Regions from separate parts of the Homo sapiens genome. Here region 1 is linked to region 2. The links come from fine-mapping of genetic effects on gene expression. A gene starts in region 2. The other region holds a variant in brackets. All regions are shown on one strand. Distances are from middle to middle. Region 1 overlaps CPNE5 (copine 5). Region 2 holds the start of CPNE5 (copine 5).

Region 1 (2,900 bases), 93 kb before region 2:
CTGGAGGGAGTAGACCAGAGCGTGACTAAGAGGTGGGAACAGAGCTCACCAGCCAGATCTCTCATGATCTGGGCACCCCTTCCACCCGCTAGAATCCACTATCCAGCACCGGACTCTGCAGCCAGAGGCCAGAAGGTGGATGAGGGCAGTGGGGCCCAGTGAGGCAGGGAAATGAGAAGCCACGCCCAAGTCATCTCCAAGCATTTCCCTAAGGTCAAGGAGGTAGGCACATCCCCAGGGTTCCCCTAACGGGGAGGAAGACACTCCTCAAACCGCCTCCCCCACCGCACACTCCTTGCTTACGTTGACAATGGCCTCCTTGGTCTGCGCCATGTCCGAGATGACCCCATCAGTAATGATGAGCAGCACCGAGTACTGGGAGCCATCCTGCACGGCCGCTGCATTCCTGGGTGGGGCAGGTGTGGGCTCAGGTCTGTCTGCGGGACCTCTGGGCATGTTCCCCCCTAAACAAGGACCCTGAACACTTTGGAGGGTGACAGCTCTTGGGGGAATCTCTTCAGGGTCAGGGCTCCCTGAAAGGCAAGTGCGTGGGAAGAGAAACCCCCTCCCACCACCCAGAGGCAGAGCTGGTGTGGAAACAGAGGCCTTGTGAGTGCCTGGAGGCGGTGGCAGCGGCACTCACCTGGCCACGTGGGTGACCACGGGGGCAAAGTTGGTGGGGCCGTACAGCTGCACAGTGCGCAGGCTGCGGTGGTAGGCCTCCAGGATGCCGTCGATGCCACAGCATGAGGGGTTCTCCTGGTTGCCATTCTGGGGGACAGAGGGCAGGGAGGCTGAGCCCAGGAAGGAAGGACAGGGGTGCACGATGTGTGGGAACTGAGTCCAGGTGGGGAGGCCAGCAGGCCTGGGCTCCCCCAGGTCTTCTCTGGTGTGGGGTGGCGGGGCAGGGGAGGGAGCTCCCAGGGCCCATCCTGAAGCAGTGCATGCTTCAGGTGAGCTGGGTCCAAACCTGCTCCTTACCCGGCTCCCTGTACCTGTTCAGAGATGCCCCAAGATCCCTGGCTGCTTCCCTCAGGGAACCTTGGGTAAATCCACTCTGCCCTAAAATGACTGCTGGGTCTCAGCAACTCAGGAAGGACCTGTGGCTGATCTGTCCACGTGCACACTGGGCCCAGCACAGC[A/G]CCTTGCACCCTCAGGCATGGGAGGGACGTCTGCTGTGCCTGAGTGTCCCCAGCTCGTGGGAGCCAGGGAAAGGGGTGGCCTGTGCAATCATCTCCACAGGGCCCGGGATGCCCAGATGACGCCATGCTCCACATCACCCTGGAGATCCACGTCATCCCATCTCAGCACTGACTCAGGGATACCCAACCCACACCACCTTGTTCACTTTTCTGGGGCCCTGAGGGATGGGTCAGCCACAGCTCGCCTCCACCTGCACCTGCGTCTTGTCAGGAACAAGGAAGCCAGGGCCAGCTGTGGGCAGGCAGCTTCAGACATGGAGGGGCAGCATCTGTGATCAGGGAAGGGAGTGGATTTCTGGAGCCCCCCTACACACAGCAGGCAGTCTACCTCCACTGAGGCTGAGCCTTAAGTCCCCGGGCTCAGAGGAAGGGAAACGTCCCCCCACCCCCAGCTTGTCACCTCACCCCCAGCCTGATCAGTCCTCTCTCCCACCAGCGGGACCACCTACCAGTGGGAACTCGTGGGACACTCTGCCATCCGGGGGCAGCTTGGCCCCGAAGCCCAGGGCAGGGAACATCTTGTCACTGTCGTAGTGCTGGATGATCTCTCCGACGGCAGTCAGCGCCAGCGCGTAGGCGTTCAGCTGGTAGGGGCTCATGTAGTGCAGGGATGTGGACTGTGAGGGGTTCCCTGTAACACAGGACATGGGAGCCTTTGACCATCTGGACCCTCCAAGTCACCCCGGGTTCAGAATGAAGAAGGGGGTGTCCAAGGGCACCCCTAACTTTTATTAATTCTTGACTCCTCTCTTTCTCTCATACCCCATGTTAAATCCTTCAGCAAAACAGATCTAGAATCCCTCCTCCGCCTCTCCTCCTCCCCATACCACCACCCTCTTGCTTATAGGATGCAGCAGTCTCCTAACTGATCTCCCACTTCCTTCTGCCCCTGTGCCTCCAGCCCATATCCAGCACAGCAGTGACTGAGCCTATCCGCCTCAGAGAGATCATGCCTCTCCTCTGCCCAAAACGCTCAATGCCTCCACCTCCCCCAAAATGAAACCCAAAGTCCTCACAAGAGCCCGCAAGCACTCATGATCTGGCCTCCAGGTCATCTCCTACCCTCCTCCCTGTCACTCGCCAGTCCCAGCCTCACCAGCCCCTCGCCATTCCCACCTCAGGACCTTGGTGATGGCTGTTCCCTCTACCTGGGACACTCTTCCCCAGATGTCCACTCCCTGGCCCGCTCCCTGGCCTCTTCAGGTCTCTGCTCAAGTGTCACCTCCTCAGTGTGATCTTTTCCAAGCAGCCTATTAAAAATTACAGCCTCCCCCAATCCTTCCTATCCTTCTTCCTGGCTTGATTTCCCCCCCCAGAGCCCTCTTCGCTGCCAATATAGTCTGTATTTAACTTATTTGTTCATTGATGGGAGGTAGTACAGCACAGATTGCCAAGGTACCAATCCTGTCTACCTCCTGCTAGTTATGTGATCTTGGGTAAGTTCCTTAACCTTAGCCTTAGTCTCTTCACCTGTAAAATCAGAGCAATAATAGTTCCTACTTCATAGGATTGATGTGAATATTACACAGATGCTATCGATATTATGATAACTATCCTCAGTGTTATTATTACTAAGGCCCCTTCCAGCTCTGATAGCCCAGTGCTCTATGATGCTAGGACTTACAGCTATAAGAGGAGCTCCTGACACCTGTAGAGGGCAAGACCTGGGCATTTTTGATTGGTGCAAAAATTAGCACT
Region 2 (2,900 bases):
GATCATGAACTTGGGGAGATAAAGGAAGAGTGAAATCTGGATGGGGAATGGGCTGTTCAGAGGCTTGGAGGTGGGAAGGATCCCAAGACAACTGAAGATGACAGGCATGATTGAAGGCTGGGAGGGAGTGCCAGGCGCAGGGATGTGCGTGCAGGAGAAGGGTGGGGAGGCCGTGCTGCTTTTGATGGCTGAGGAGGTGAGACTGGAGCTAATGGGCCATCAGGAATCTCCCAGCAGAGTAATGACAAGATGCAAATGGCGTTGGGAGATGATCCTGACGGCATGGTGTATGGGACCTGGGAGCTATCACAGGAGCCCCCAGAGGGCCTGGCTTAGGGGGGAAGCTACGTTCAACCAGACTAGCCTTCACTGCCACTTATCCCCAAGTCTTCAAGAGAAAGTCACACTGAGTCCTTCCCTCCTTCACGCCCCTGCCCAGACTCTCCAGCTCTACCTACACCTCATCAATGCCACAACTTTGTAATACAGGACTGGGGGGCAACAAGGTTACCTCTCATGGAGGGTCTGACCAAGGAGCAACCTGGAAGAGGATGAGATGGGTGATTTCGAACAAGGGCACAGCCAGGGCTCCAGAAATGCTGTCGGTGATCTGGGGCAGGGGGCATGGCCTCTGTGGGGGAACCTCAAAGTGGGTGATGCTTGCGTGGCAGCACATGATCCTAGGCCAGCCACAGAGAGACTGAACTAGGGAAAAATCCCCCTTTGCCACCCATACCCTCTTACTGCCAGGGGCAGCCTTCCCCTAGCTAGGAGAACCTGGGGTCGACCCAGCTCTTAGACAGAGAAGTTACCCCCAAACCCTGTGTGACATGAGTGAAGATTTGGGCGTGGTAGCCCACAAAAATATTCCCCCTCCTCCTCTGTTGGACTCTACAGTTTCACAATCAGTGTTCTATTCCTTTGGCTTAAGATTTTTGACCCAAGTTATTTTTTTAATGGTGCCACTTTAAGTTGTTATCATGTATCCACACCTTAGTATGAATGAGTCAATCTGATCCTTTTCCAGGAGTCGATTTCGTTGTTGATAGAGATGAAGGAAGGCTTTAAAATCCTAGAGTCTAGGACAGTGGGGTGGGGGAGACTGGTGAGGGGAGGATCAGGATGCTGGGGCAAAGAAGGGGCAAAGAGAGAAGAGAGGAGGGCACAGAAGGGAGAGGGTGGACGAGCCTGGGAGGGATGGGGGCAAATCACTCACTTCGTGATTTGGGGATGGGGTGATCAGAGATAGCCTGAGCAGAGACCGTAGTACAGCCTTTTACCAACTCCCTCTCCCCACTTGGGTGCCTGGACCCCCTGTTCCTGTGTCTTCATATCTCCTCGATGCAACAGCCTGGAGCGCAAACTTTCTGGGATATGACCCCAGCCTGGCTTCCTATTCTGCCGTCGCCACCCGCAGCTGGACAGGACAGGGGCTCTTGGCAGATCGGCAGGGGCGCAGTCCTGGAGACCAGGACACTCTGGGAAGGGGGCGCGCGGAGGTTTAGGATCGAAGCGGCAGGGGCCGCGGGGCTCTGCGTCCAGGGCCGGGGCAAGGGGACCCGGCCAGCGGGAGGCTCACCTGCAGGACACGGTGATCTCCACCTTGGTGGCCGGGATGCTGCCCGCCAAGGAGTCGAACTCGCTCAGCGACGCCATGTCCTCAGGCTGCTCCATCGCCCACCGCACCCCCCACCCCAAATTAGTCAATCCCTGCGCGATTCACGCCTCCTCCGGAGCGACTGGAGCCCTGGGCTCTCCCCCAACTCCAGAGCCTGGGCTGGGCGGCAAGGGGAGGAGAGAGGAGCGCGAAGAGGGGGCGTGGGAAGTGAGAGAGGGAAGAGGGCGGAGGGAGCGGGGGCCGCGGATCGAGGAGGGGGCTCGGGTGACGCCGCGAGGAGGCTAGGGGCCCAGTGGGGAAGGGCAAGGAGCCCAGGGAGCGGGGGCACAGCGGGGAAGGCAGAGAGGGGCGCGGGGAGAGGGGCTCGGGGAGAGGGCACCGGGAGGGAAACGCGGAGTCGTGGAGAGGGGCACCAGGAGAGGGACGCGCGTCTGTGGGCAGAGGTAGAGGGGATGCAGAAGACAGGGAGAGGGGCGTGAGGAGCGGGAGGCGCCGGATGGGGCGCTGGCGGCGGGGGTGGCGGGGCGCCGGCAGCGCGGAGCCCGAGCGCCCGGGCTGCGCCGCCTCTCCCTGGGTCTTGGCGCCGGCGGCGACGGGGCTGAGACGCGGCTGCGAGCGCCACCTCCTCGGCTCGGGCTTCGGCTCCGGGGCGCCCGGGCTGCGGGAAAATCAAATCTGCCCGAAGCCGCAGCCTCCCGCCGCCCGGGAACGCCAGAGGGGGCGCCCGCAGGGGCCGGGGCGGGGCCGCGGGCGGGGTCTGCGCGCAGGGTGAGTGTGAGCGTGTGTGTGTGCGCGTGTGTGTGTGTGTGCGCGCGTGGCGGGCCGGGGGACGCGGTCCAGATGCTGGGGACGTGGCGGGTGACAGCAAGAGGTGGTCCTGGTCGCGCGCATCTTCATTTGCGCCCGCCCCCTCTCACCACCCCTATCTCCCATCAGGGGTCTCCATCCTGGGGGAGGGGGAGGGTTATGGGAACCAACGGGCGCCTTTTTGAGAAAGGTCTATGCAGGGTTGAGAGGGGGCATAAGTGGGAGGGAGGTGTGCAAAAAAGATCCCCTCCCAGGGGCTTGGGTGTGGAGGGTCTCTGCTGAGTGTGCGCCCTACTCGGGGGCGGGTCTCAGTTCAGAAACAGACCCTACATCTCCTTCTGGGGAGGTGTGTGGGGGCGACCCCAGTGCCAGGAGGGACTACCTCGGTTTCCCAGTGGCCCAGGTGGGGTCGGTGCATGGGCGCCTCCCCCATCCGTGGTTCCCGCCAGCCGCGGCCTCGCCAAGTCGGCTGCCG

Evidence for each region. PIP is the estimated chance that this variant, and not a neighbour inherited with it, causes the effect.
Region 1: its variant is fine-mapped to the expression of CPNE5 in whole blood (TOPMed, PIP above 0.99).

What each region holds. Positions count from the first base shown.
Region 1 is chr6:36,744,745-36,747,644 of GRCh38, forward strand. It overlaps CPNE5 (copine 5), which reads right to left. Exons shown (of 21, transcript NM_020939.2): 16 at 1,652-1,833; 17 at 644-771; 18 at 304-406. Among named protein-coding and RNA genes, the nearest start is that of RAB44, 48 kb to the left of the region's middle. RefSeq lists a silencer at 189-389. The variant A/G (reference allele first, on the strand shown) is at 1,143.
Region 2 is chr6:36,837,704-36,840,603 of GRCh38, forward strand. It overlaps CPNE5 (copine 5), which reads right to left and starts at 1,741. Exons shown (of 21, transcript NM_020939.2): 1 at 1,580-1,741. The coding sequence starts at 1,674. RefSeq lists a silencer at 2,205-2,414.